2 linked regions of the Homo sapiens genome follow. The protein of the gene in region 1 interacts with the protein of each later gene in a pairwise test. Each region holds a gene or a part of one and is shown in the gene's direction. Other genes may lie near its edges. The genes, in order: DHFR and GKAP1.

What was found.
Region 2: the proteins of DHFR (region 1) and GKAP1 interact in a two-hybrid assay, tested with the Homo sapiens proteins (one large-scale study listed by BioGRID).

Annotation. Positions count from the first base shown.
Region 1 is NC_000005.10:80,644,971-80,648,793, reverse strand, and holds part of DHFR (dihydrofolate reductase), read left to right. Parts: intron 1-3,823.
Region 2 is NC_000009.12:83,803,961-83,807,783, reverse strand, and holds part of GKAP1 (G kinase-anchoring protein 1), read left to right. Parts: intron 1-1,223; 5' UTR 1,224-1,266; coding exon 1,267-1,482; intron 1,483-3,823. UniProt on the Homo sapiens protein: Regulates insulin-dependent IRS1 tyrosine phosphorylation in adipocytes by modulating the availability of IRS1 to IR tyrosine kinase. Its association with IRS1 is required for insulin-induced translocation of SLC2A4 to the cell membrane.

The DNA of each region.
Region 1 (3,823 bases):
AAGAATTTTCCTGTCCTCCAACCCAGGGTTGGAGTCAGTAGTTCATGAAGCCTGGATATGCCCTGGTGACTGGAGAGTGGGAGGGGTAATCATATTAAGACTGCCCAGGAAGTCAACTCCAATGGCTTGGGAGGTTGAGGGGTGGCCAGAATTGGACCTGTGTTAATCCATTCTCATGTTCTTATAAAGAACTGCCCAAGACTGGGCAATTTGTACAGGAAAGAGGTTTAATTGACTCACAGTTCCTCATGGCTGGGGAGGCCACAGGAAATTTAAAATCATGGTGGAAGGGGAAGCAAACGCATCCTTCTTCACATGGTGGCAGGAAGGAGAAGTGCCGAGCAAAGGGGGAAAGGCCCCTTATAAAACCATCAGATCTCATGAGAACTTAACTATCACGAGAACATCATGGGGGGTACCACCCCCCATAATTCATTTATCTCCACCTGGTATCACCCTTGACATGTGGGGATTATTACAATTCAAGGTGAGATTTTGGCGGAGACACAGCCAAACCATATCAGGATCTAAGGGGAAGGTCTGGGATCTGGCATGTTAATCATTCTTAGTCTAATAATATAATCACCAAAAAGAATGCAGTATCCTAGGGCACTACTTTCTTGGGAACAGTAGTCATAGTATTCTTTTCCCATGTGTATTGGTGAAGATTCAACCAAAGAAGCAGAACCAGTAGTAGATAGATACAGGTATATTAAAGAGTTTTATTGCGAGGAATTGGCTTACACAATTATGGGGGCTGGGTACGTGAGTCCAAAAATCTGTAAAACGGGCCATCAGAAAGGACAAGCTGGAATTCTCCAGCAGGGGCTGAAGTGGTACAGGTGAAATTTCTTCAGGAAAGCCTCAACTCTACTCTTAAAGCCTTTAAACTGATTGATTCAGCCCACTCAGATTAAAGTCTGACCGGGCACAGTGGCTAACCCCTGCAATCCCAGCACTTTGGAAGGCCAAGGCAGGTGGATCACTTGAGCTCAGGAGTTTGAGACCAACCGTGCAACATAATGAAACCCCGTCTCTACAAACAAATTAGCCAGGCGTGGTGGCATGTACCTGTAGTTTCCAGGAGGCAGAGGTTGCAGTGAGCCAAGATAGTACCACTGCGCTCCAGCCTAGGCAACAGAGTGAGATCCTGTCTCAAAAAAATTTAAAAAAAAAACTGAATTGTAATCACATCTACAAAATGCCTTCAAAGCAACACCTAGATACAGTATCTGAATAACCAAGGACTATATCCTAGTCAAGTTTAACACTATGGGAAGGAAAGAACTACACAGCTATATAGGCTAAGGGGATTCAGGCTTACATAGATTTTCTCCCAAGTTCTTCCTAGAATGGCATAGGTAAAAACCGAGAAGAAAGTGTATAGAATATTTGCATTGATTGCCTCTGGGCGACGGGGCAGATTTGTTGATGTGCATCTTGCTGCCTGCTTCCATCTTCATGCTGTTCTTTCTTCTGGTTGCTAGGATGCTCTGATTATCTCTTTCCTTGGTAGATTTCAAATTCACAGACTATATCGCCATTCCAAGAAACTCTTTAATGATATTTTTGAATACTACTCAAGTTTGTTTATGGCTAGCTTAAGCTCAAACAGAAAGAAATCTCAGTGGGGGAGATGTTCACTTGAGCCAGCATTTCTCCTCGAATATGATGAGTGTAATTTTTTTTTACGACCTTCCTGTGATGCATGTAATTGGGTTTGGTTGCTTCTTCTGTATTTATATATAACATATGTTGGTGTCTTGTGCTTTTTTTTTTAAGGCTGAGAAAATTTAAAGTCTTTGTTATCAAGCATGCCAGGGAAATAGTGATACCAGTTAGTAAAAAATGTTAGAGCTCTTTTTTGTTGTTGTTCTTCCTTCCACTTCCTTACTTGTTGGTCAGTCCCACACATATAGTGAACAGCTGCTGAGTGCCAGGCACTGCAGGGTCCTGAATAAGAGGGCAGAGATTTATACATGGAAATCACTTGCTTATGCCAACTCTAAAGATACTTCATTTTTCACCCCTCTCCCCCAATGTAAGAAGAAACTGAATCCTCAAAGTGATCACAAAATTTTCTACCAAACACTATAGTAATTTAGGGTAAATATTTCTTAAGTAAGGTATTGAGGGAAAATGCTTTTCCAAAGTTGTCTAGACAGTCAAGTTGTGGCTTTAAAAGAACTTGAGGTGAGAAGGGTGGGAATGGCCACTGATGAGTACAGAATGTTTTCTTTTTTGGTGTGATGGAACTGTTCTAAAAGTAGATAGGAGTGATGCTTGCTCGACTCTGAATCTACTAAACGTCACTGAACTATACACTTTAAAAGGGTAAATGTTATGGTGTGTGATTTATATCAATAAAGTGGCTTTTAAAAGTCTTTGGAACCAGCCGGGCACAGTGGCTCACATCTGTAATCCCAGCACTTTGGGAGGCCGAGGTGGGCAGATCACGAGGTCAGGTGTTCGAGACCAGCCTGGCCAACATAGCAAAACCCCGTCTCTACTGAAAATACAAAAATTAGCCAGGCGTGGTGGCAAGCACCTGTAATCCCAGCTACTCGGGAAGCTGAGGCAGGAGAAGCTCTTGAACCAGGAGGCAGAAGTTGCAGTGAGCCAAGACTATACCACTGCACTCCAGCCTGGGCAACAGAGCAAGACTCCGTCTCAAAAAAAAAAAAAAAACCTCGTTGGAACCAAAAATTAAATAAACAAGTTTTACTGTAATGCTATAGTAGCCTGGACACCATCTTTAGAAAATCCAAAATTGCCTCCATTATGTAAGATTTAAATAGTCTCCCATCCACGAAAGTTAACTTAATTTCATGTTATAATTTTTTACGATCTCACTATCAGAATCTCCACAGTGATTAAAACTTCTTGAAGGTGCAGTTCTCTCTCCCCCTACCACTCACACACTTGGAGTAGCAAACACTGACCTGGTTTCTGATGTCTACTATGGCACCTAATAACTTTGTGACTTTAGGCAGGTTACAAGTAAGCCTTGTTGAACCTCTTTCCTTACCTATTAAATGAGATGAATAATGACAACTTTTTTGGGTGATTTTGAAGACTCACTGAAATTTTGTATGTAAAGTTTCTGGCACACAGAAGGGTATAGATATCAGTTCCTACCCCCACCCCCATAAACTTGCTACTTTATATCTTATAGAACATACACATTAATATTAATATTAATGAAATCACAGTGAACAGACTCATGATCTCATTTTCACCTTAACATATTACTTTGTTCTTGTTTCCCTCCATCTTGAGACAAAAATCCACTGCCACCTAAATCAACTCTCTCATCTCCCCTGACTTGATTCTGGATTCCTTTTTTTCTATCTTCACCTTGCTCTGCTGTCCCAACCTTTTAGTATTATCAAAGGCAAAATAAAAATTTTGCGATGAATTCTCTAAATTTAACATTGTGTTTGGGAAGAAAAAATTGCAGTTTAGGGCATACATGCAGACAAGTGACCTTCCATATGTCTGAAGAACAAAGGGAAGGTTAGAGGTTTTATTTAAAAGGAGAAATGTTACTGCTCTTTGAGAAAGTTCATTGGCACTACTAAGGTTTGGGGGAGCTAGCAAGCTCCGACTGGCGAGCAGTGAGTGGTGGGCAAAATCAGTTCTAGAGTTGCAGCAAGTTATCTCAGAAGCTATAGATAAAACTGGTTTCAGGTTACAACAAGCAGTTCCAGCAGTCAGGCTTACAGAGAATTACATTCTTGGAGCAATGTTTTATACCCTGAGTGCTTTTTTCCCCTGGCCCCTCAACTCTGATTTAGTTGGGTATGACAAGAATGACCCACTG
Region 2 (3,823 bases), on another chromosome or scaffold:
TGTGATAATGTGAATATAGTAAGAAATATATATGTAACCAGTGGGATATTGTGGAAATGACAGCAGTTCATTCAAATATGATCACTGTGAATCAAGGCATAGAATAGAACTATAAAGAAAAGCAAAGGAGTAAGTTATACAAAAATCAGGATACTTGTTATCTCTGGCTGGTGCAGTGGGGGAATGCAATTGGAGAGAAGCATAGGAGTCAGTTAACGTTTTGTTAACCTTTGTGCTGGCTACTTGGAGTGTTCATCTTAATTTTTTCAAATTGAATATTCAGTTTTTACCTGAAACATTTCAAAATACAAATTTCTGAGTTGCCATTCTGTTAAGACAATCTTTGTCTTTTTTAATTAGAAGAGCACTTAGTCTTCTGGTTGTTACAGGGCTTCTTAATTTGGACTTTCAGAATAAGGTTCAACAAATCTAGGTCCAGGTGGAGACTCAGCCGCTAACTTCCAGAAAGAACTAAGGGAAGTCACATAACCAACTTAAACTCCACTTACCTTAGCTGTATAACTAAAGGATTTGGATTAGGAACTACTAGGGGACTTTTAAGATCCCTTCTAAGTCTAAACGGTTGTGGAAAAGCTGACAGCACATGGAATGAAGCTACACTGACCTATGCTTGCATGGAAACTAGTGAACTAAACATAATGTGGAAGGCATTTTGAAAAGTTTCCTTTGGTTGAGAGAATTTAAGCTCTTTATTTTTGCTGTCAGTTCTAAATCACAGTCTCTAGAATCAAACCTATGGTAGTATTTTATATATGATAAGAGTGGTATTCCGTCTTTACTCCTTTTTTTCTTGTATTGGAAGTTGGGAGTTAACATGTAGTTGGACTAAAGGTCTTTTTTTTGTGTATCATGAAAAAATGATATTCTTTTCCACTGTAAACCATATTGATTTAGGATGTTCTCTATAACTATGTATATATTTCAGAATGATTGAGAGAGGAAGACTGTGAATTTTTAAAGTATACATGGAAAAATGAGTACATTATATCTGTGAAATCTCATATTTTTCTATTGTAAAATGTTATATCGTTTACTTAAATATAAAAGTATGTTATTGCTAATAGTGCTGTGGGTATTAATCCAAATTTACTAAATCCAGTGTCAGAAGAAATTTATTTTATCTACATATGGTTGTTTTAGAATCTACAACAGATTTTACTCTGTTTGTTTACCCATCTGCCTACTCTTCTGCCTCCCCACAGAAATTATTCTTGACAGAAGTATTTTAAAAGAAAAATCTTTACGATGGCCTCAGCAGTACTTAGTTCTGTTCCCACCACCGCTTCTCGTTTTGCCCTGTTACAAGTGGATAGTGGCAGTGGCTCTGATTCTGAACCTGGAAAAGGTAAAGGTCGAAATACTGGAAAGTCTCAAACTTTAGGAAGCAAGTCAACTACAAATGAGAAAAAAAGAGAGAAAAGAAGAAAAAAGAAGGAACAGCAACAGAGTGAAGCAAATGAGGTAACACAATTATCTGTGTTGTCTGCTTTCCCAGTAGATGGTAATCATCCTGAGAACAGATACTATCTTGTTCCCCTGTGTATCCATAGTACCTGTTCCACAGGTACTCTGAAAATATTACTTCAATGAATGGATGTGAATTTGTGTATATTTAAAATCAAATGTAATGATCTTTTTTTTTTTTTGAGACAGGGTCTCACTCTGTCACCTAGGCTGGAGTGCAGTGGGATGATCACAGTTCACTGTAGCCTCAACCTCCTAGGCTCAAGGTAGCCTCACACCTTAGCCTCCCAAGTAGCTGGGACCACAGGCACACACTGCCATGCCTGGCTAATTTTTGCGTTTTTTGTAGAGATGGAGTTTTGCCATGTTGCATAGGCTGGTCTTGAACACCTGGGCTCAAGCAATCTGCTTGCCTCAGCCTCCCAAAGGGTTGGGATTACAGGCGTGAGCCACCACACCCTGCCTGAACATTTTTAAAGTACGTTTTTTCTGACTGGAAGTTTGTGTGTTCATTGCATAAAGTTTAAAATAGGAAAGTCTTAAAAGGAAACAGGTCATTTATAGATATAACCAGAGATATAACCAATTAATATTTTGGTATGTGTTTTCTGTACACATATATAAATTTATATGAATATATACATGTATGTATATATCCTTCTAATACTTAAATGAAAATGGGGTTATATAATAGACTGTTTTATAACTGGCTTTTAAAAAAAATTAACCATGAGCAGTTTTCCATATTGGTAAATACAGATCTCTGTTATTTTAAATGAATCCACAGTTTACAATATTTAATTACATGGTTTTTTTTTTATTTTTTATTTTTTTTATTGATCATTCTTGGGTGTTTCTCGCAGAGGGGGATTTGGCAGGGTCATAGGACAATAGTGGAGGGAAGGTCGGCAGATAAACAAGTGAACAAAGGTTTCTGGTTTTCCTAGGCAGAGGACCCTGCGGCCTTCCGCAGTGTTTGTGTCCCTGGGTACTTGAGATTAGGGAGTGGTGATGATTCTTAACGAGCATGCTGCCTTCAAGCATCTGTTTAACAAAGCACATCTTGCACCGCCCTTAATCCATTTAACCCTGAGTGGACACAGCACGTTTCAGAGAGCACAGGGTTGGGGGTAAGGTCACCGATCAACAGGATCCCAAGGCAGAAGAATTTATCTTAGTACAGAACAAAATGAAAAGTCTCCCATGTCTACTTCTTTCTACACAGACACGGCAACCATCCGATTTCTCAATCTTTTCCCCACCTTTCCCCCCCTTCTATTCCACAAAACTGCCATTGTCATCCCGGCCCGTTCTCAATGAGCTGTTGGGTACACCTCCCAGATGGGGTGGTGGCCGGGCAGAGGGGCTCCTCACTTCCCAGTAGGGGCGGCCGGGCAGAGGCGCCCCTCACCTCCCGGACGGGGCGGCTGGCCGGGCGGGGGGCTGACCCCCCACCTCCCTCCCGGACGGGGCGGCTGACCAGGCAGAGGGGCTCCTCACTTCCCAGTAGGGGCGGCCGGGCAGAGGCGCCCCTCACCTCCCGGACGGGGTGGCTGGCCCGGCGGGGGGCTGACCCCACCTCCCTCCCGTACGGGGCGGCTGGCCGGGCGGGGGGCTGGACCCCCCCACCTCCCTCCCGGACGGGGCGGCTGGCCAGGCGGGGGGCTGACCCCCCCCACCTCCCTCCTGGATGGGGCGGCTGGCCGGGCCGGGGGCTGACCCCCCCACCTCCCTCCCGGACGGGGCGTCTGGCTGGGCGGGGGGCTGACCCCCCCACCTCCCTCCCGGACGGGGCGGCTGGCCGAGCAGAGGGGCTCCTCACTTCCCAGTAGGGGTGGCCGGGCAGAGGCGCCCCTCACCTCCCGGACGGGGTGGCTGGCCGGGCGGGGGGCTGACCCCCCCCACCTCCCTCCCGGACGGGGCGGCTGGCCGGGCGGGGGGCTGACCCCCCCACCTCCCTCCCGGATGGGGCGGCTGGCCGGGCGGGGTGCTGACCCCCCCACCTCCCTCCCAGATGGGGCGGCTGGCCGGGCGGGGGGCTGAGCCCCCCACCTCCCTCCCGGACGGGGTGGCTGGCCCGGCAGAGGGGCTCCTCACTTCCCAGTAGGGGCGGCTGGGCAGAGGCGCCCCTCACCTCCCAGACGGGGCGGCTGGCCGTGCGGGGGGCTGACCCCCCTACCTCCCTCCCGGACGGGGCGGCTGCCGGGCGGAGACGCTCCTCACTTCCCAGACGGGGTGGCTGCCGGGCAGAGGGGCTCCTTACTTCTCAGACGGGGCGGATGCTGGGCGGAGGGTCTCCTCACTTCTCAGACGGGGCGGCTGGGCAGAGACGCTCCTC